Linked DNA regions of Homo sapiens. The protein of the gene in region 5 interacts with the protein of the main gene of each other region in a pairwise test. Each region holds a gene or a part of one and is shown on either strand. Other genes may lie near its edges.

Evidence for each region.
Region 1: the proteins of TMEM14C (region 5) and MTERF3 interact in binary tests that used the Homo sapiens proteins (3 or more experiments, as listed by UniProt).
Region 2: the proteins of TMEM14C (region 5) and ARL13B interact in binary tests that used the Homo sapiens proteins (3 or more experiments, as listed by UniProt).
Region 3: the proteins of TMEM14C (region 5) and TMEM79 interact in binary tests that used the Homo sapiens proteins (3 or more experiments, as listed by UniProt).
Region 4: the proteins of TMEM14C (region 5) and SSMEM1 interact in binary tests that used the Homo sapiens proteins (3 or more experiments, as listed by UniProt).
Region 6: the proteins of TMEM14C (region 5) and ELOVL7 interact in binary tests that used the Homo sapiens proteins (3 or more experiments, as listed by UniProt).
Region 7: the proteins of TMEM14C (region 5) and VSIR interact in binary tests that used the Homo sapiens proteins (3 or more experiments, as listed by UniProt).

Annotation. Positions count from the first base shown.
Region 1 is NC_000008.11:96,241,663-96,244,647, forward strand, and holds part of MTERF3 (transcription termination factor 3, mitochondrial isoform 1 precursor), read right to left. Parts: intron 2,419-2,985; coding exon 2,257-2,418; intron 1-2,256.
Region 2 is NC_000003.12:93,983,027-93,986,657, reverse strand, and holds part of ARL13B (ADP-ribosylation factor-like protein 13B), read right to left. Parts: intron 1-3,631. UniProt on the Homo sapiens protein: Cilium-specific protein required to control the microtubule-based, ciliary axoneme structure. May act by maintaining the association between IFT subcomplexes A and B. Binds GTP but is not able to hydrolyze fit; the GTPase activity remains unclear.
Region 3 is NC_000001.11:156,290,134-156,292,943, reverse strand, and holds the end of TMEM79 (transmembrane protein 79), read right to left. Parts: intron 1,560-2,810; coding exon 1,346-1,559; 3' UTR 501-1,345; downstream 1-500.
Region 4 is NC_000007.14:130,213,998-130,217,371, reverse strand, and holds the end of SSMEM1 (serine-rich single-pass membrane protein 1), read right to left. Parts: intron 1,399-3,374; coding exon 902-1,398; 3' UTR 528-901; downstream 1-527.
Region 5 is NC_000006.12:10,728,826-10,731,735, forward strand, and holds the end of TMEM14C (transmembrane protein 14C), read left to right. Parts: intron 1-1,789; coding exon 1,790-1,841; 3' UTR 1,842-2,302; downstream 2,303-2,910. UniProt on the Homo sapiens protein: Required for normal heme biosynthesis.
Region 6 is NC_000005.10:60,834,208-60,837,838, forward strand, and holds part of ELOVL7 (very long chain fatty acid elongase 7), read right to left. Parts: intron 1-3,631. UniProt on the Homo sapiens protein: Catalyzes the first and rate-limiting reaction of the four reactions that constitute the long-chain fatty acids elongation cycle.
Region 7 is NC_000010.11:71,767,021-71,770,520, forward strand, and holds part of VSIR (V-type immunoglobulin domain-containing suppressor of T-cell activation precursor), read right to left. Parts: intron 1-3,500.

The DNA.
Region 1 (2,985 bases), on a different chromosome or scaffold from region 5:
TTTTATGGATGTGGTGGTGTGGGGGGAGAGTTGTTGGCCACCAGGGGCTACTTTGCCATTGGCACAAAAATTTCATCCTATTAATGACATATTAAATTCTTCGGAGTTAAAAAAAGTGCCCCTAGCCTGAGAATTATTGGTTCCCTCTAATCCTAAGGTGGACTTCAACTTTGCCTTCACAGAAAGTCACAGAGGAAGGGGAGAGTGAAGGTTTCGGGGGATCCTGAATATAACCTCTTTCCTTAGCCTAGTGATTTCTTCACATTCATTACCCTAAAACTGCTTTTGTTATCCTTTACCTTCCAAGATCTCTTCTTTGAAATGACTAAATTGATCATAGTTATTAAGTTATACTTCTTTCCCCATTTTTAATTAATCGTAAGTCAGATCTGCCAACCAGGAATATTATCTACATGAGAAAATTAGTTCCATGCCACTGAGATTTAAACACCAGCCAAAAATGTAAAGTCTATATCAGCCCATTCACAGCCTTACTGTCCGTTAATGTATTTTTTCATTAATAAGCTTTTTATTTTTCTGTTTTTATTCCCCAATAATTCCACCTAGACTCTAGGAATCTGAGAATCCCAATTTGGAAGCCACAATTCTACAACAGAGCTTCTCTGAGGCAAGGGTTTGGGGTGCCTAAAATCTGTGTTTTTAAGTGATTTTGATGCATCTGGTCAGCTTATAATTTCTTCTATTTGGAAAGCTCCTCTCCATCTTTTAAACACCACTCCCTCTTCTACAGACAATTCAAATGTACTTCTAGCAGATCCTAGTAAAGGGCTTGGGTTTTTAAACTGGACTGTTGGAGTTCTAATCGTGGTTCTGCCCCAACCTTGTTACTTGGGTAACCTTGGACAGGTTACTTAAATCTCTTTAAGCTTAAGTTCTTTATGTGTAAAATAGGGGTAATAATAGCATCTACCTCATATGGTTGTTGTGAGAATTAACTGTGTTAATACAAATAAAGCAATAAAGATAGAGCTGGCACACAGTAAGTACTCAATTGCTGTTATTACTTCTATAATTCTCCTACCGCTTCTAAATCACTGTAGGAGCTCTGGTTAGGACTCTACCATCATATAAAGCAATTCTATTTTTAAACCTGTCTTCCACACTCGATTATAAGTTCCACAAGAACAGAGATCATGTCTGCTTGACTTTTGTATCCTCAGTGCCCAATGTGTAGCACTGATGGATGCTCAGTGATATACTGGAAAAATGAATTACCCACCAACCCAGGGAAAAACAAATTGTCATTTCTTTTTCGTTGAAGATTATTTCACAATTACTCCATGAGCCAAATTCACAAAACTGTAGGCTTCTAACACTTCTATAATGGGTATATTTACGTTTGGTAAAATAGGAAAATCCTATATTAGAGGCCCGTTCCTAGTGAAGTATAATAGGCAAATAAATATAGCTGTATGTGAAGGAACTGGACCTAATGCAGTCTAGTTCTGAGAGTTGTATTAAGGTCATATTTCTTTTACCCATCTTTTTTCAAAAACAGGAACATGTGTTCTAGCAAATGGAGTAGAGGGATCACTTAAATAAAAATTCAGTTTGTCATTTATCCAATAAATACTGAGTGGCTATTTGCATAGGAAATAGGAAAAAAGGATTACTTTGATAAAATCCAATCATTCATTTGTTCAACAAATATTAATTGTGTGCCTACTTAGTGCCAGGTGTAGTTCTAGGCACTGAGGATTTGGCAGTGTATAAATCAGACAAAGTTTCTGCTTTTAAAGAGTCAATATTCAAGATTAATATTCTTGTGAACAGCAGATAATATCACTCACTAGGTAAAGAATATGGAAGCTTGATTAGCTTAGAAAATATAATTACGGCTTTGGCATGATGGCAAACTGGATCACTTTTATATTGGGATGGGGATCATTACAATATGGCTTATTGATTCATGAATTTAAATAAACTGTGACTAAAAAGTACACGTAGCAGTGAAAGGACCTTTAAGGGAAGTGATCTATTCCAAAGTAAAGTAGAGAAAAACATGAGAGAGAAGAGAGACTACATTAGATTTGTTGGCCTGATTCCAACAATCAGAACTAGGACTAGGTAGAAACTCCAGGGAAAGAGACTAATCACTGATTTCTCCTCAGGAGATGGACATTTGCGCCCTGCAAATTGTAAACTCTTCCCAGCGTACAGAACTATGCAGCTGGAGAGCAGCTCCAAATGAAGCGCAATGGCAGCGCTTACAGAGAGAGCTGTGAGTGGCATTACCTGTGGGAACTTGACAATGATGTGGTGGGGAATGCTCATCACATTGTGCACAAAATCAAACGTCTCGGTAAGTTTCATTTTATTTGCAGTTAACATCTTTGGGATTCTGGTGATCATATGTTGAATTTCGTTATGTTTAAAACCAAGTTCAAGACGATAAACCTAAAAGAAAGTAAATTTGCTATGAATCGTTATGTAGAAATAGTTATTTTGGTACCATGGCAAGGCTGCACTGATTTTTTTTTTTTTTGAGATGGAGCTCGCTATGTTGCCCAGGATGGAGTGCAGTGGCATGATCTCCTGCCTCAGTCTCCCAAGTAACTGGAACTACAGAGGAATGCCACCACACCTGGCTAATTCTTGTATTTTTAGTACAGCCAGGGTTTCACCATGTTGGCCAGGCTGATCTTGAACTCCTGACCTCAAGTGATCCACCCACCTTGGCCTCCCGAAGTGCTTACAGGTGTGAGCCACCGCGCCTGGCCATGATTTTTTTTTTTGAGACGGAGTCTCGCTTTGTCATCCAGGCTGGAGTGCGGTGGCACGATCTCAGCTTACTGCAACCTCCGTTTCTTGGATTCAAGTGATTCTCCTGCCTCAGCCTTCTAAGTAGCTGGGATTACAGGTGCCCACCACCATGCCTGGCTAATTTTTGTATTTTTAGTAGAGATGAGGTTTCACCATGTTGGCCAGGCTGGTCTCAAACTCCTGACCTCAAGTGATCTGCCC
Region 2 (3,631 bases), on a different chromosome or scaffold from region 5:
TTATGCAAGTCAAAGAAAACATTTCGCTAAAAACACTAAAATCAAAGTTTGACACATCGGAACTCTATTATCTACAGTATTTAAAACTACATGAAGCAAATTCTAAATTTTAACATAAACATAAATTCTAAAAGTAACAAATACATATACAAAAAAAGACTTTAGAACAAGGTTTTATGATACATATGTGAGAATTTTAAAAAATCACTATACGACAAATTGATAGAAAGAAAAAAATGTATCGAAAAAACAGTGTGATTTTATTGCAGTACACTATTTTCTGACATTTCAATTCAGATCTAGAACCCCATATTACAGCAAAATCATTATCTAAATTTACTGAGTATGAATAAATAGTGAGAAGGCCAAGCTTGGGTTTATAGCCTGCTTTTAAGCCCTGATCAAGTCAAATTCTTAGTGTCCATTTTTTCATCTCTAAAATATAAGGGGGTAAAATAAGAATGTCTCTAGGTCCTTTTCTATATTAAAATTCTAAAATTCTTACTATGCATAATCAAGAAGAACTAGGGGGATAAAAAGAGATGTAAAATATTCCAGTTCAGCATACAGCACAATAGATAATCCTTGCTAATCTGTACATACAGCTTAATTGGAAAATTAAGAACTCAGCAATTTCTATAAATGGTCTAGATTTACAGTTATATTTATTTAGGCCAAGAATGATGGTATTAGGGAGCTAAGTATTCCCTCAGTGAAAAAGTTCATAGCAAAGAGGACAAAACAGACCACTAGAAACATTGTGTACTGTATCTTATTTTAGACTTGGCCACAGCAAACAATTTACTAATAAATTTGAAGTAAAGCTTTGATAGGTTGTATTTGTGATGCTGAAAAAACACAGATGGACAAGAAATCAGTTCCAATTAAAGGTTAACTCTGTGGAAGAATGGTGGGAGATGAATAGGGGGCAGGAAGTTTCAAGGATTTGTTACCTACTTATTAAAATAAAATTGAAATATGATGACTAAAGATTAATATTTATAAAACCTGGCAGGCATATGGTACTTATTATATCTTTCTTTTTGGTTAAATAACAGTAAAAACATTTTTGTTAGTTATGTATGCATAATATATAAGAAGTTATATAACATGTATATTTTCATATAAACAAAGAATTTTGTTGCCAAAATTTGTATGCAAAATTTGTTGCATGAATTTCTTCAAGACCCAGGTAAAATTACACCCCTTCTAAAATCCTCTTTCCTGATTCTCATTAAAAATCTTAAAAATCATATTTCAACTCTTGCATATTCGATCATTATATTTTACATGCACTATTTCATCACCTAGATGCTATGTTATAAATAACAGGAGCTCAAAATCTGTAGATGAGAATGTGTAAGGGTTAGAATCTGCTATAAGGCCCAGAGATTTACTGAGCATCATAGCTTCACAGACCTTGTGTCCTGTACTCAGGATGAAGGCTGCTCCCTATAAGCTAAATAGATTGCAATAGATTAACAGTTTTTAATGTTAAAAATGAAAATATAAAACTACAAGAAAAAAGTATATGTGAATGTAATCTTGTAATGCTGATGAACTTTCTAAACATTACACTGAAACAGTAATATATTTGAATTTAAAATTTTTATTTAGTCTTATTGATTGATTGATTGATTGATTGATTGAGACAGGGTTTCACTTTGTCACCCAGGCTAGGCTGCAGTGGGGCAACCTGGGCTTACTGCAGCCTCCACCTCTTGGGCTCAAGCGATCCTCCTGCCTCAGCCCCCCAAGTAGCTCGGACTACAGGCACATGCCACTACTTCTGGCTAATTTTTTAAAACATTTTTGTACGGATGGGGTCTCACTATATTGCCCAGGCTGATCTCAAACTCCTAGGCTCAAGCGATCTTCCCAAGTGCTAGGATTACAGGTGTGAGCCACCACACCCAGCCTGAATTCAAACATTTTAAATGTTTATATTTAAAAAGCACAAAAAGTTGAAAATATAACAAATGGAAAGAAAATACTTGCAATATTATACAACTGATCCTTGAACAACACACGTTTGAACTGCACAGTTCTACTTACACACAAATTTGTTTTTAATGAAAGTTACACGTGTGCCTTCCTCTCCTGCCTCCTCTGCCTCCCCAGCCTCCATTTCCACCTCTTCTGCCTCTGAAACCTTCCTGAGACAGTAAGACCAACCCCTCTTCCTCTTTCTCCTCAGCCTACTCAATGGGAAGAAGATGAGGATGGAGACTTTTATGATGATCCACTTCCACTTAATAAATAGTCAATGTATTTTTTTCTTCTTTTTAATTTTTTTTTTTTTAGACAAGAGTCTTGCTCTGTCGCCCAGGCTGGAGTGCAGTGGCATGATCTCAGCTCACTGCAACCTCTGTCTCCCAGGTTCAAGTGATTCTCCTGCCTCAGCCTCCCAAGTAGCTGGTATTGCAGGTGCCCACCACCACACCCAGCTAATTTCTGTATTTTTAGTAGAGACAGGGTTTCGCCATGTTGGCCAGGCTGGTCTTGAACTTTTGACCTCAAGTGATCTGCCCACCTCAGCCTCCCAAAGTGCTGGGACTACAGGCGTGAGCCACCGTGCTCCGCCCCTTATGACTTTCTTAACATTTCCTTTCCTCTAACTTTAAGAATACAATAAATTATACATATAACATAAAAAATATGTGGTAACTGACTATTCATGTTATCAGTAAGGCTTCTAGTCAACAGGAGGCTATTAGTAATTAAGTTTTTTGGAAGTCAAAAGTTATATGTGGATTTCTGTCTGTGCTGGCAAGGCAGGGTTCAGTGCTCCTAAACCCTGCGTTGTTCAAGTGTCAATTGTACTACAGAGAAACAGTAGCTACGACAAACACTTAAAATTTCTTTTTAAAAATTCATTAAGAAAACACACCTGCCCCAATAGAAAAAACACAACAGTAATCAATGGACAACTGCTGAGAGAAACAAAAATGCGCAAGGAAAAAAAGTTAATCTTCCTAGTAATAAAAACAAAACAAAACAAAAAAAACCCCAGAAACTCAAAGCAGAAAGCAGGTTCCCCTATAATGTGAAGGAGATGAAAAACCGATGACTCTTGATTTTCTCAGTGAAAAAGGCACTCCAACGTACTGTTGGTAGGAGTAGAAACTGTGTTTTCTCTTTTTTAATCCTTTCTGAGGAGCAATTTGGTAACATATTTTTAAAAGATAAACTTAGGAACAATAAAATTTCAAGAGTTTATTTCCACATTCATTGATTCATGAATGGAGCCGTACCAAACTGAACCAAAATTCATGAATGGGGCCATACCAAACCCCAAATAAGTGGGGTTCAGTACTCCACTAAGGGGGATGAAGCGTTAAACTTTTATAAGATCTTGACTGCTGACCTAGACTGGTGCCTTAACACTTGATCTCTGACTCCTGCCTTGTCCTTATCACACAAATCTAATCCCTGATTCCAATGTCTGGAATAATATGCTCACTAGGAAAGGATCTAAGTGAGGAGAGGTGAACAAATACAATGGGTACTGGGGTACAGAATGTATTAAACAAATCTGCAAAGTAATCTCAAATATAGTATATTAATAACCATCATCATCTCTTTTACAAATTCACTCCTCACATTTCATCTTCATAAAATATAAACATGA
Region 3 (2,810 bases), on a different chromosome or scaffold from region 5:
CCATCTTGCTTTTCTGTGGAACCTCAGAGGCCAGCCTCGACTTCCTGGAGACCCCCAGGTGGGGCTTCCTTCATACTTTGTTGGGGGACTTTGGAGGCGGGCAGGGGACAGGGCTATTGATAAGGTCCCCTTGGTGTTGCCTTCTTGCATCTCCACACATTTCCCTTGGATGGGACTTGCAGGCCTAAATGAGAGGCATTCTGACTGGTTGGCTGCCCTGGAAGGCAAGAAAATAGATTTATTTTTTTTCACAGGGCTCCAGTCTCTTGATGTGTGAGTGTTGTTGGGCTGGTCTTGGGCTGGTTCCAGGGAATGGAAGGGCTAAGAGATGGGCTTGGAAGGCAAGTTTCTGTTTGAGGCTCCATTTCCTTGCTGTGGAACCAAGGAACCTGCCAGCCCTGCTCCACCAGGTAGAGCTGGGAGGTTTCTATCGTCATCTGAATTAAACAGGGAAGGGACACTCGAGACTGGGGGACAAACAGGAAAAAAGAGCCAGCAAAGACTGGTAGTAATTTATTGTTACACACACACACACACACACACACACACACACACACACACACACACTAGGTTAACATCAACCACCGCACCATCCAGGCACTCCCCAGCCACCACGTGTGGGCACAAAGACACACACACCCCTCTTGGTAGGCAGATTTCCCTGTCTGCTCCCCTCTTCCTGTGGGAGAGGCATGCCTTCTGGGCAGTTTAAAGGTGGGAAGTTACAGGGGCCTAAAAAGGTAAAAGAGCAGCAGCTCTGCACTGGCCAGCTGTAAACAGTAAATAGGCCAGTCATGGAGGGTCCTGAATCCAGATCCTCAGGAAGGTTTTCACCAAACACCACAGTCCCATTTGATGTGATGCCCAGCCTCTATCCTTAAGGCATTTCCAGCGTCCCTGAGGCGCTCTGCTTAGACAACTGGCACAGAAGTGGTCAGGGCCTTGGCTGTGGCTCTGCCTCCTGCCTCACGGGAAGCCGGGGAGTGGAGCAGAGACCAGCATTAGGGAGCCTTGTGGCAGTGGTGAGAGGCTGCTCAGGAAGGAGCTGTGCCTCTCCCCTGGTCCTGGCCCCATGCCCTCAGCATCCTTAAGAAACACGGCTGTCCACCTTTTTCCCTGCAAGAAAACTAAGTCCATCCCTTATGACTGTCTCGGGCCCCAAAGGTGAAGGGCAGCTCCGGCAAGGGGAGAACTCCGATTGATTGGAGTCCCTGTTGGGGCAGTAGCAGGGTTCCACCCACCGCGGTCCTAGGCCTGGGGGCGAAGTCCAGGCCTGGCCACAAGGTTCAAAGATGTGTCAGACCCAAGCCGCTACCCCCTACTCCGAGGGCGAGGGCGGAGAGGCTCAGCCCCAGGGGCGGGGCCTGTAGTCGGAGGCCGAGCGGGCGTGGTCCGGGTAGTCCAGGCGGCTCTCGGTGGCAGTGAGCATGCGCTCCGGCTCCACCACGAACATGTAGTAGAGGTTCCACATCAGCATCGACAGCAGTGGCAGAAACGTCAGGCCGTAGCCGAAGCCTCGGAAGGAGCGGCCCACGGCAAAGGTCAGCCAGTAGATCAGCCTATGGGGGCAAGAAAAGGGTCAGGCTACTCTCGAGGGAAGCGCGTCAGCTGATTGGCAATAGGCTGACGGTGGGGGGAGTAGATAGGGGAGGCAGATGCAGTTGGTGGGTATGGCTGGTACTTCCAAATACAGCCAAAGTTTATGCACTTAACATGTATTAGGCACAGCGCTAATTACTATAAGTGATTGATTTGACTTCCCCACATCTTTATGAAGTTGAGTATGTTATTCCTTTCCCTCTTTTATTTACTTTTCGATTTATTTTTATTTTTTTAGAGACATGGTCTTGCTATGTTGCCAGTCTGGGCTCAAACTTCTGGCCTTGAGTGATTCTCTCACCTCAGACTCCTGAGTAGCTGGGATTACAGATGCGGGCCACCACACCTGGCTGTACAAACTTTAAAATGTTTGAGCAAATTCAATGAGTATAGTAAAATATCTTCCTCCCTTTACCGATTCCCACCCTATTCTCCCCCACCCCCACCCCAGGCATCAATATTATGGTTTCTTGTGCACTGAGTGATTTTTTAAATTATTATTATTTTTTTATTTTTGAGACAGAGTCTCTCTCTGTCACCCAGGCTGGAGTGCAGTGGTGCGATCTCAGCTCACTGCAACCTCCGCCTCCCGGGTTCAAGCAATTCTCCTGCCTCAGCCTCCTGAGTAGCTGAGACTACGGGCGCCCGCCACCATGCCTGGCTATTTTTTTGTATTTTTAGTAGAGATGGGGTTTCACCCGAGATGGTCTCAATCTCCTGACCTGATGATCCGCCTGCCTTGGCCTCCCAAAGTGCTGGGATTACAGGCGTGAGCCACCGCGCCTGGCCTATTTTTTTTTTTTTTTAAATTATAGATGGGGTCTCTGTCAGCCAGGCTGGAGTGCAGTGGCAGCCCCCAACTCCTGAGCTCAGGCAGTCCTCCCACCACAGCCTACCAAAGTGCCTTGGCCTCCCAAAGTGCTGAGATTACAGGTGTGAGCCACCATGCCCAGCAGATTTTTTTCTTTTATTTTTTTCTTAAAGACCAGTGTGCTTTTCTTGGAGAAAGAAGAAAAGAAGAAAGAAGGAAGAAGAAGAAGAAAGAAAGGAGGAAGAAGGAAGAAGAAGAGCCAGTGTGATAATACATTGAGTGATTTTTTAAAAAGTGCATATATGAGCAAAAAGTTATTTTTCCCTTTTCTGAAGTATGGCAGCATACTATATAGACTGTCTCTGCATGTTTATTTTTCCCCCATTTAATATATCCTGGA
Region 4 (3,374 bases), on a different chromosome or scaffold from region 5:
CTCCACTTTTGATGTGTAAGTCCTTGGCCTGCCTTTAGCATGAATCCTGTTAGGTCACTTTATCAGGAATACTCCTATGTTTGATGTCTCTCTTTGGTAATTTCCCATCCTGTGATGTCCTCCTCCTGCTCCTGGCTATAAATCCCCACTTGTCCTTGTTGTATTCAGAGTGGAGCTCAATTTCTACTCTCTATTGCAATAGAGTCTTGAATGAAGTCCTCCTGGCCATTTTAACAAGTGTCAGAATAATTTTTCCTTTAACATTTGCCATGCACTTTGTGGATGACAACCGTGGGTAGCCCACTGCCAACTGCCTTCTGGGTCATGCTGCCTCTCCTCCCTACTCCAGGAATCAGATCTTATTCCAGCCTCTTGAGCTCCTCTTCCACACCAGCCCCTAGCTGACATGTGTGGCAATACAGTTCTTGTAGGGTCAAACCTAGAGAGGATGGGGCAATTCTATTCCAACCAACTTCACCTAGTTCATTCAGTCAGTCAGATAAGCAAAACATCTGAATACATTTAAGTGGTTTCTCAACATAAATAATACATTTTCAAAGAGCTTTCTTATTCATATTACAGACATAAACAAAATACATACACTCAAGGCACAAAATATATACACTCAAGGCACAAAATATCTGTCTTGTGCTATTTCAAATAAAAAAATCATAGCAGATATAGATCTTTGGTGTTCCAATGGTGCCATAAACACGTGATGGCCTTTTTTTTTTTGAACGAAGAATTGTGTGAGATTTTACCTCTTGGGTTCCAAGTATGTTTTTGTTTGTTGGTAGAGAGACTTTGTTGTAAAAGTCTCCTCACCTATAGCTCTGGTGATTTTTCATGTTTTATTCATCTCTTTCATTTGGCTTCAAGTGAAGGAAGAACGTGATAAAATTCAAAATTTACTAAATTTCTTGTTAATGTCAGATATGGAACTTTCCTCTTGACTGTCTCTTTTCATTGGCGGTGTTACTGAAGGCTTCTGTCGGGAATGGTGCGCCAACCATTCGTTGGTTCTCAAGGCTTTGCAGTGGAGGCAGTGCCTTTCGCTCATTTGGTAACTTCCCAGATTCCTTTGCCTCTGAGCCATTTTTCTCCTCTTAATACTGTCTGGTGATGGGTGGTGTTCACTTTCACTCTCCTTCCACGAGGAGGCTTCTGAGTTAGACTCTTCACTGCCATACTCCGTAGTATCACTGTCATGTTGGTTCTGGTTCACCTCATTGAACTGAGACTGGCGCCTGGCTCGTCTTTGTTCAGGATAGGCATTGACCAAAGCCACTTCTGAGTTGGTTACAGGGGTAAGTTGGTTCTGCTTTGGTTTCTTCATTGTTTGTGAGGGATCCCAGGCACTGTCTTTGCTTTGCCGCTTACAGGAAGTCTCTTTGCTTGCTAACAACCAATGAAACATATCAAGTTAGTAATATTGTTGGTTACTATGAATTCCTATTACTTAAGAAGCCTGTGCACGTGTGAGCTCACTCTTAGTGGCCAGTTGTCAAGCCATTGCTTTTCTCCAGTCACCTGCAAGTGTTGGCAGCTGACTGCATTTTCTAGTACCATATCCCAACTCCTGCAGACCAGAGAGCTTAGATAGATGCTTGACATATCACCATATCACTTTTGAAGTTTTGTGGATGCTAAACATAAGGTCAAAGGAAAAGATCTCTAAACTTTTCCAGGGAAGAACTCTTTTTTCCCTTTGAAAATTGAAGTCTTACAGATTCAAGCAGGTATATGAATGTGATTTGGGGAGCAGGAACTAAGAAGGATCTTTCCTTTACGTAGTGGTGTGAGGAAGTTGGCTTGTACCTGCTCAGAAGAGCTGATAAACTTTCAGGAATTTTGAGAGATGGTTAAACATAGCCATTATTAAAAATTAAATTATACCAACTTACAATAAATTAAGTTACTAAAAATAGAGGTAATACTCAAAACCCATCACTTCCTAATTATCTTACTACATTTGTTTATGCTATGTGCTCTTCTGGTTTTTTATGTCCGTTGTATTTGGATGCTGGAAACTCTATGCTGTTTTTTTGTTTTGTTTTTTTTTGTTTTTGAGATGGAGTCTCGCTCTGTTGCCCAGGCTAGAGTGCAGTGGCACGATCTCGGCTCACTGCAATGTCTGTCTCCCAGGTTCAAGTGATCCTCCTGCCTCAGCCCCCCAGCAGCTGGGATTATAGGCACGTGCCACCATGCACAGCTAATTTTTTTGTATTTTTAGTAGAGACAGGGTTTTGCCATGTTGGCCAGGCTGGTCTCGAACTCCTGACCTCAGGAGATCCACCCTCCTTGGCCACCCAAAGTGCTGAGATTACAGGCGTGAGCCACCACGCCCGGCGGAAATTCTATGTTAAGGGTGCACTACTGCACATCTCCTCCCAACTCCATGTTCAATGACATGAGGTGGATAGCTTAAAATCAGCTTTGGTGGAAGTATTTATACCACGAAAATCAGCAGACACTAAACATCAGGGCTTGATGTATGGCTTTGTTGATTGTCTAGGCTTAAGAAAATGATGGAGAACATGTTACTAATGCAGATTACATATTACATTTCAGTATCATCCCTGTAGCCACTACATTGTGACTAACCCTGCAAAATGAGGAAATATTCTTCCAGTATTTTAGAACTATTATCCATTCCAGCAAAGAAGTCACTCACATCACTGACAACCAAGTTAAGTTCCAACATACATCTATCTTCTGCTTCATTTTCATCTCACTCCTTAACTTAGAGGAAAATAACATTCACGCTGGAACTATACTTGTTCATCAATTGCAGCCATGGTTGGCTAAGGTGCAAGGGTCTGGCAAAAATGAAGGAGAGCGTTTTGTGAGAATCAGTTGTCTATATGAAATTGGCCATAAGGAGTATTGTATATTTTATTATTTTAAATGGTGTGATATATATTTATTTATTTTTATTTATTTATTTATTAAATTTTTAGAGTCAGGGACTCACTGTGCCGCCCAGGCTGGAGTGTAGTGGCATGATTATGCCTCACTGGCAGCCTCGAACTCCTGGGCTCAAGTGATTCTGTTGCCTCAGCCTCCTGAGTAGCTGAGACCGCAGGTGCGAACAACCATGCCAGCTAATTTTCTTTTTTAAAAAGACAGGGTTTTGCTATGTTCTCCAGGCTGATCTTGAACTCCTGGCCTCAAGCAGTTCTCCTGCTTCAGCCTCTGGAGGTGCTGAGATGACGTGCAACCTTTATATCAGTAAAATTTTTAGTAAGCATATGTACACACAGGAGTTTTGGAGAACCAGTTGTTAAACATTTACCAGTGCACCACTGCTTATAGGTTATTGAAAAAGATGTCATAGACAGTTCATAATCCTGTAATAGCACTAACCATGAGGA
Region 5 (2,910 bases):
TGCTATGTATCAACTGACATTTGATATATACACTAATAGGAAATGTTTCAAAAACAATAGCTAGTTTAATGTCAAAATGGCATGAGTATATCCATTCACCGTGGAAATGGGTTTGTTCTCATATTTGCTTTCCAGTCCATCCAAACTCCTCCCTATATGGTGGCAGAAGTTTTAGTGCAAAGCCATGACTGCAGCCTTTTGTGTGACTTGCATGGAAGATTTGGGGGCCCCATATTTCTTAGATGTGTAGATGTCTTTTACAGAAAATTTTGCTAAAAGAGAATTTTGATTGAATCCTGTTTTCTATTTTTTGTTGTTGTTATTGAGACGGAGTATCACTCTGTCACCCAGGATGGAGTGCAATGGCGTGATCTCCGCTCACTGCAATCACCATCTGCCTCCCGGGTTCAAGCGATTCTCATGCCTCAGCCTCCGGAGTAGCTGGGATTACAGGCGTGCACCACCATGCCCAGCTATTTTTGTTGTTTTGGTAGAGATGGTGTTTCACCACATTGGCCAGGCTGGTCTGGAACTCCTGATCTTGTGATCCGCCCACTTCGGCCTCCCAAAGTGCTGGGATTACAGGCGTGACCCACTGCGGCTGGCCCTGTTTTCTAATTTTGATTATAAAACCTAAACCAAATTGTGGTTTTTAAAAAATTTAGTTGTGGCTGGGCACAGTGGTTCACACCTGTAATCCCAGCAATTTGGGAGGCAGAGGCAGGCGGATCACCTGATGTCAGGGGTTCAAGACCATCCTGGCCAACATTGCGAAACCCCGTCTCTATGAAAAATACAAAAATTAGCTGGTTATGGTAGTGGGCACTTGTAATCCCAGCTACTCGGAAGGCTGGGGCAGGGAGAATTGCTTCAACCTGGGAAGCGGAGATTACAGTGAGCTGAGATCATGCCACTGCACTCCAGCCTGGGGGACAGAGCAAGACTCCATCTCAAAAAACAAACAAACAAACAAACAAAACTTTAGTTGTAGGCCAGGTGTGGTGGCTCATGCCTACAATCCCAGCACTTTGGGAGGCCAGAGCGGGCGGATCACTTGAGGTCAGGAGTTCAAGACCAGTCTGCCCAACATGGTGAAACCCCATCTCTATGAAAAATACAAAAATTAGCCGGGCATGGTGGTGCACACCTGTAATCACAGCTACTTGGGACACTGAGTCAGGAAAATCTCTTGAACCTGGGAGACGGAGGTTGCAGTGAGCCGAAATTGTGCTGCTGAACTCCAGCCTGGGCAACAGAGGTGAGTGAGACTCCATCTGAAAAAATAAAAATAAAAAACCTTCTCAAAAACAAAAAATTTAGTTAAGTATCATAAAGACATCCTGAAGGTAGGGGAATTTTTAAAAATCTGTTTTGGAGAAAGATTACATACTCTGATCATAGTTGTGATGCTACCAGTATAATGTTTTATACCTGAAGCAAGGAAGTCAGTGTGGAGCAAGGTCTAGAGCAGTAAACTGAGACGCTGGAGAGTCTACCATTAATCAGATCTGTGATGGTGGGGAGGCCTTGCTCTCTCTTGCCTCCATTTCTTCATCTCTTCAAATTATTGGCAGTTGGGTTAGGATCCAGCTCATGTGTGCTATTTTAAGACTCCCTTGGCTTGCTTTTTCTCTGGTTCCTCCAGGGATGGAAATTTACCCCTGACCACTCTTGCCTTAGTACCTCCTCCCCCACGCAGTTGTGAGGAACCAGCAGTTTAGTTCCTTAAAAACATAGTTGCCTGTTCTGTCCTTTACCTGACATTTTCTATCTTGTTTCTTTTAAACAGTTTGCTGATGGTCGCCAAAGTTGGAGTTAGTATGTTCAACAGACCCCATTAGCAGAAGTCATGTTCCAGCTTAGACTGATGAAGAATTAAAAATCTGCATCTTCCACTATTTTCAATATATTAAGAGAAATAAGTGCAGCATTTTTGCATCTGACATTTTACCTAAAAAAAAAGACACCAAACTTGGCAGAGAGGTGGAAAATCAGTCATGATTACAAACCTACAGAGGTGGCGAGTATGTAACACAAGAGCTTAATAAGACCCTCATAGAGCTTGATTCTTGTATATTGATGTTGTCTTTTCTTTCTGTATCTGTAGGTAAATCTCAAGGGTAAAATGTTAGGTGTCAGCTTTCAGGGCTCTGAAACCCCATTCCCTGCTCTGAGGAACAGTGTGAAAAAAAGTCTTTTAGGAGATTTACAATATCTGTTCTTTTGCTCATCTTAGACCACAGACTGACTTTGAAATTATGTTAAGTGAAATATCAATGAAAATAAAGTTTACTATAAATAATATTTCCTATGGGGTCTTCATTGCCAGAGCTGTCTAGTTCATAGAATGAGATATTGCTAGCAGCAAGATATAGAAACATGAAAGTATTTTGTTAATATTTAGAAATTACCTATTTTGAATAACTTAAGGACCAAGGAAACTTATTTGATTGTACATTGCATTGAAGCTTGTTTCAAAAATGACCTCTGAGGATTTTTTTTGTTTTTCAAGAGACAAGGTCTTTCTCTGTTGCCTAGGCTGGAGGGCAGTGGTGCAATCATATGTCACTGTAGCCTCAAACTCTTGGGTTCAGTCATCCCACCTCAGCCTCCTGAATAGCTGGTACTACTGGTGCATACCACCACACCCAGCTAATGTACTTTTTTTTTTTTTGGAGATGCAGTCTTGCTCTGTTGCCCAGGCTGGTCTCAAACTCCTGGTCTCAAGTGATCCTCTCGCTTTGGCCTCCCAAAATGTACTGGAGTAATAAGCATGACCTACTGTACCTGGCCACTGAGGTTTTCTTCTTTTTTTTTTTTTTTTGAAACGGAGTTTCGCTCTTGTTGCCCAGGCAACCTCTGCCTCCCGGGTTCAAGCCATTCTCCTGCCTCAGCCTCCCAAGTACCTGG
Region 6 (3,631 bases), on a different chromosome or scaffold from region 5:
CTCGGCTAACTGCAAGCTCTGCCTCCCAGGTTCACACCATTCTCCTGCCTCAGCCTCCCAAGTAGCTGGGATTACAGGTGCCCGCCACCACACCTGGCTAATTTTGTTTTCGTATTTTTAGTAGAGACGGGGTTTCACCGTGTTAGCCAGGATGGTCTCCATCTCCTGACCTTGTGATCCGCCCGCCTCGGCCTCCCAAAGTGCTGGGATTACAGGCGTGAGCCACTGCGCCCGACCGGTTCACATTATTAAAATAAACTTAAATGTTATATAGATGTTATTAATGAAAGCCCAATTTAAAATAAGAAGCATGAGCCAGGCAGAGTAGCTTACACCTGTAATCCCAGCTACTTGGGAGGCTGAGATGGGAGGAATGTTTGATGCCAGAAATTTGAGATCAGCTTGGGCAACATGGTGAGATCCTGTCTCTCAAAAAATGATATAAAATAAGAAGTATGAGTTGATTATATACCATTAGTATGGAATGCTAAGTGAAGGTTCTGACTACTTACTACACTATAGCGTAAACTATTACAGTCAGACTAACAGGAGCAGGAATTCTGACTAGTTTTGGTTAGTTGATTTTTAAAAATTTATTTATAGCAAAGAATGAAAAATTTATTTAGATACTATAAACACTTACTTTTTAAAAAAATATATAAATAGGCATTAATTCTCCAATTTTCCAAAGTAGTCCCAAGGGCTGGGCACAGTGGCTCACACCTGTAATTCCAGCACTTTGGGAGGCCAAGGCGGGCAGATCACTTGAGCTCAGGAGTTCAAGACGAGCTTGGGCAACACAGAAAAACCCTGTCTCTACCAAAATACAAAAATTAGCCGGGCGTGGTGGCACACACCCGTAGTCCCAGTTACACGGGAGACTGAAGTGGGAGGATCAATTGAGCCCGGGAGGTGGAGGTTGCAGCGAGCTGAGAGCAAGCCACTGCACTCCAGCCTGGGTGACACAGTGAGATCCCATCTTGAAAAAAAAAAAAAAAAAAGACAGAGTAGTCCCAAGACTGTACTTGAGGAAGAGCTCCTCACCAATATTTTTCTGCTATAAACCATACCTAGAACTTAATCTACAATTTCCAGTTTTAACTTTCTAAGTGAATTAAAAACAAAGCAAAACAAAATAAAACAACTACACACACTTTTAAGGCAAGCTCAGGATATTTTTCAAGTTTTTACAATTTCTGTTTTTATTTTTGAATTTTTTTTTTAGACAGGGTCTCACTCTGTCATCGAGGCTGAAGTACAGTGGTGCAATCACAGCTCACTACAGCCTCGACCTCCTGGACTTAAGGGATCTTCCCACTTCAGCCTCTGGAGTAGCTAGGACTACAGACGCATGCCACCACACCCAGTTATTTTTTAAATTTTTTGTAGAGATGGATGTCTCACTATGTTGCCCAGGCTCGTCTTCAACTCCTGTCCTCAAGTGATCCTCCCACTTAGGCTTCTCAAAGTGGTGGGATTACAGGCGTGAGCCACTGCACCCAGCCATCTTTCTGATTTTTTTAGTTTTCCTGACCCCTTAGTGACTCACTTTTATGGAACCTTTCCAAAGAATTCAACATTCCTTTCACAATAACAATATTCTTTTTTTGCACTTACGTTTCATAAGTTCACGCATATCTAAATTATCTATCACAATAACAAATATAACTGGCACTAACATGTTTGCAATAAATACAATAAATTGTTGTTAAGCCAATAACCCAGCAGTTGGAGAAGGAAGAAGACTACTAGAAGCCACTGTTCATCATGCCTGGGCACCACCCCATGTGCTTATAGGGAAATGAAGAGCATAGGCTCATTGGTCAACTGTTAGATGTCAACGGTATTGTATTTGAATCAGGATGAACCATATGCAAACTGCCAACATCCAACTGTTTATTCACCTACAGAAAGGGCAATTGCATATGTTCAACCATATATATATATACACATTTTATTTAAAAACACTGACTATATTTTATGTTAAATATCACATCCACTACCATTTTTTTCCTTTAGAAGAATGAATAGTGGTTCTCACAGCTTGATTTAAAAAATTCCATTCCACATTGGCTCAGGAACTCACCCTAAGCTACTGAATAATTCGTCATTGGACTCTGGATTCCTAGGAATGCCATTTCTATCTTCTTTCTTTCTTCAAGTTAAAGTCACACCTGTTAGTCACACACGAAGAAGAGGATGAAGGATGAAGCTATCAGCTGTGCTTTCTAGCTAACTGAATGATAAGCAGCAAAGGGATTAAAATGTGGGTCAACATTGTTCGTTGGCTGGTTTATTTCTGAGACATAAATCTTTCTGTCCTACAGGATGCAACACAGCACTGTCTGCCTGAAGAAGGTACAAAAAGACAGGTAAGACTCTGAGGGGCAGAGAAGCCCCTGAACAGACTTAAAATAAGTCACCCTTAAGTAATAAGTGCCCTTTACTTTTGTTCTGCCCTTGTTAGAGCATTTAATTAAAATAAACACACAAACAAATCACAAGCGTGCTATTAGGACAAAACCCAAAAATTTGGGACAGAAAGAAGGAGAAGAGTTGGGGGATGGGGCTGTATTTAGATTAAGGGCTGCTAGTGAAACTCTCTTTGTCTAGATCTCACGTTTCTACCATTGACACTAAAAAATCTAAATTGGGTTTATTTTTATGGTTGCCCTTACGCCCTCACAAAACTATTGTAAGATATCAGAGTCCTAGGGCCTCCTATATTCTCAAAAATATCAACCCAGAGAGTTAGTATTCAGAGTGGGGAGAGCCTAAACCTTGTAATTACACCTAGGTTTAAATCCTGGCTGCATACTTCTACCAGTGTAGCCTGAGCACCCTTTCTGCTTTTTTCACCTTTCTGTACCTGTGCATATGATGAGCCAGACTTTGCTGGCTTCAAAGGATTCATTAGAAAATACAAGTAAAGAGACTCACTGCAGGCTGGGTGCAGTGTCTCACGCCTGTAATCCCAGCACTTTGGGAGGCTGAGGCGGGCAGATCACCTGAGGTCGGGAGTCGAGACCAGCCTGGCCACCACGGTGAAACCCCGTCTCTACTAAAAATACAAAAATTAGCCGGGCAGGCGTGGTAGGGCGGGGGGGTGGGGGGGGAGTGGGGGGTGGGGGTGGCGCTTGTCAGGAGGCTGAACCAGGAGAATTGCTTGAACCTGGGAGGCAGAGGTTGCAGTGAGCCAAGATCACAACATTGCACTTCAAACTGGGTGACACAGTGAGACTCCACCTCAAAAAAAAGAGAGATTCATTGCAACTATTACTTATGCCTAAAAGATGACAAACCTTTCACCCCATAATTTTCAATAAGATGTTTTAAATGTAAATGCAGCCTTGAGTATCCTGTAAGGACAGAGGTACAGATGATGCCCATGAAGTTGATTTTCTGTTTCAAAATTCACATGCAAGCTAAGCATAATCAAGATATCTAATGTAGGCTGGGCGCAGTGGCTCATGCCTGTAATCCCAGCACTTTAGGAGGCCAAGGCAGGTGCATCACCTGAGGTCGGGAGTTTGAGACCAGCCTGACCTAACATGGACAAACCCCGTCTCTACTAAAAATACAAAATTAGCCAGGCATGATGGTGCATGCCTGTAATCCCAGCTACTCGGGA
Region 7 (3,500 bases), on a different chromosome or scaffold from region 5:
CCCAGGCAGGGAGGCTGTGGGGATGCAGAGTTCCATCAGGGGCATCTGCTCAGAACTTGGGCCTGGACCTGTGCCTGAGATTTCTAGCTGTGGCACCCTCAGATGTTTCTGTCCCAGTACAAGGGAAAGGAGCTCTTGTTGGCATCTTCTCAGAATGCCAGTTTTTGTGACCTTCACCTCTCTCCACCCAGCAGGCCCCGGGTGACCCCTGTGAGTGTGCACGGGATGGGTGTGTGTGGGTGTGGACAGGCCTGTGTATTTTTCATGACAGGGCGTGAGCTTAGCCCACAGTCGCCAAGGCAACGCCCTAGCCTTTGGAGGTGGGACCCAAGCTTGGTTAGTCGGGCCTAGGAAGCCCCACCCAAACAGCTGAACTCTGACCAGCTGCTAGAGGTTGTCAAGTAAACAGTTATTAATTGCCTGCTGTGGCTGGCCCTGCACTAGATGCAAAAGGTCCCGTCCTTGGTCTCACAGGACATCCCAAAGAGAATGGGACCTGGTTCCAGCTCCCCGCCAGGCCCCATCCCCCAGGATGGTCCACAGGCTGGGGCTGGGGCTGTAGGAAAAGACTATGTTCTGTCTTTATCAAGATGCAGAGGGAAACAGAGGCATGGATCAATCAGGACTGGGGCTGCCAAGGCTAAGAAAGGAAGCGTCACAAGGCATAGGCTCAGGGCCTGAAGCCAGCAAGTCTGCCCTGGGGCTTTCTGGCCAGTGAGGACAAAGGGCATCTCAGATGTGTTTATTGATACCTGCCCCCGCAGGAAGTGTCCATTCACATCAGACCAAGGGGGCTGGGAAGGGGAAGCCAGGCTCTATTGAAGGAAGCGGCACTTCCAGCACCTTGGGAAAGCCTCCGTGCATCCGGGGCTGGAGCTGGAGGCTAGCATGCCTCCCCAGGGAGGGCCTAGGCAGCTGGCCAGAGGTCCCGGCCCGTGGATGCTTCTGTGGATGAACCCCTCCCAGACTCCCCAGGCCCTTTTGGAGGAGGACTGTGTGCAGCTCAGGCTCCCGGCTCCAGCCAGCCACCCTCACGCTTCTATGCTGTGAAGACGTCCTCAGGGTCCAGCTCAAGTCTTTTTGCCCCCTACTACTCTGTGCCAGGCATCATTCTAAGTGCTTGTTTGTTTGGTTGGCTTTGTTGCTGTTGTTGTTGTTGTTGTTGTTTGAGATGGAGTCTCGCTCTGTTGCCCAGGCTGGAGTTCAGTGGTGCAATCTCAGCTCACTGCAACCTCCGCCTCCCAGGTTGAAGCAACTCTCCTGCCTCAGCCTCCCGAGTAGCTGGGACTACAGGCACCCGCCACCACGCCTGGCTAATTTTTGTATTTTTAGTAGAGACGGGGTTTCACCACGTTGGCCAGGCTGGTCTTGAACTCCTGACCTCATGTGATCCACCCGCCTCGTCCTCCCCAAGTGCTGGGATTACAGGAGTGAGCCACTGTGCCTGGCCGTTTGGTTGGTTTTCTTTAGTGAGCTAGGGTCTTGCTCTTCACTCAGGCTGGAATGCAGTGACAATGAGATCATAGCCCACTGTAACCTCGAACTCATGGGCTCAAGTTATCCTCCCACCCCTGCCTCCCAACTAGGACTACAGACACATGCCACTATGCCCAGCTAATTTTTAAATTTTTCATAGTGATGGGGTCTCGTTATGTTGTCCAGGCTGGTCCCCTGGCTTGAAACTCCTGGCTTCAAGAGATCCTCCCACCTCAGCCTCCCAAAGTGCTGGGATTACAGGCATGAGCCACTGTGCTCGGCCTCATTCTAAACACTTTTACATAGATTAGTTTATGTAATCCTTCCACCCTATGAGGTAGGTACTAGTATCATCTCCATTTTACAGATGAGAAAACGGAAGCACAGAGAGATTAGTATCTTGCCCACAGCCTCACAACTAATAAGTGATGGTGTCAGGATCTGAACCCAGGTAGTCAGCCTCTGGAGGTCTGGTGCCATCTGACTACTCTCTAGAGAATAGAGGTAGCTGGGGACTGACTGGAGGCCCCACCTCCTTCTTGAAGACGGACAAATGTCATGACCAATGAAAGCCCAGCTTGCCTGGCCACGTCTACCACATAGTTTTACTTTTGGTTTTACATTAAATAACATTGAATCATATATAGAAGAGGTTATTCCCTTTACAATTATTTCAGTCCTGATTACATCAAAGAGAAAGTCTCAGTTTGATGCTAATATGTCTCTAAAACATTTGCTAATCTCCTTTTCTTTTTAAATTTTATTTTATTTTAATTTTTTGCAAGGGAAAGCAGCAGTTTTCAGACTCCGAGCCTTCCCAGGCTAAAGTTTCCAACTAGAATTCAATACCCTTATATGGTTTTCCTGTTACGTTCTTTTATGGTTTTGTTCTATTTATGACAAGTGATACTGGCTTTCCACTAATGACAGCGATAAAAAGTTTCCTTTTAAAGATCTACATACTCAAATAAAAGAATGAGTAGATTTAAAGAAAAAAATAAGTAAATATTATGAAAGGCAGACACTGCAGAGATCACAAAGGTGATAAGCAAATGACTGAAGCTAGGGAAACACCATCATGGAATTAACCTTCAGAGGAGGGTGGTCAGCCTCACTGAGACCACGTCACCCAACCTGTCCATTGCACAGACAAAGGGGAAGTGTGTGTTTGTGTTCCCATGATGAGTGAACAGCAGAGGCAGGGTTTGACCCCAGGTCCCCATGGGAAATAAGATCCTACGCAGAAAGGCTAAAGGAATGGGCTTGCTTGGCTTGGTAAGTAGCAGAGCAACCTCATTATTGGATTACTGATGAGAAAGATGGTGGCCACTGTCTTTGTCTTTGGTGATGGCCAGCCAAAGTGAATGGACCGAATGTAAAAAGATCAGATGTAAGAAAGATCCACCAAGATAAGCAAACCCAGGGCCAGGCTTGCCTTCAAGTTGCAATGTCCCCATCTCCTGACAACTTTAAGAAGAGAACCTGTAGGCACCTCCATGGGCATTTCAGACTGTGAGGGCCTACAGGGGCTCACAGGTAGCTGGACGCAGCCCATGCACCCTTCATACTCCAGGCTTTGGAGAATCTAGTCCCAGTGAAGCTCACCAATGCCTTCCCAGGCCCTGGGCACTCCATTAGGCCCTGTAGAGAGCAAGCAGCTTAGATAGAAAGCCAATGGCATGTGGCCTGCAGAAGCCAAGAAATACCATAATATTACACAGTATTCACGAGGAGCCGGGTGCTGTGTTAAGTGTTCGTTCATTGGCTCTTCACAGTTGCCCTCCAAGGGAGGTGGTATCATCTTCCCACTTTAGAGGGAGGGGAACTTGCTCAGGGAGACTGAATAACTTGTCCAATATCACAGAGCAGTAAATGGCCATCTTGGGATTTAAGCCTAGGTCTGAGTGACTCACAAAGCCCAAGAGTTAAGCAAGGGGCTGTACGGAAGCCCTGGCATGCATGTCCCTGGCTTTGCCATATACAGGCATGCTGGGACTGCAGCTAAGGGCATCTGTGGGGCCACT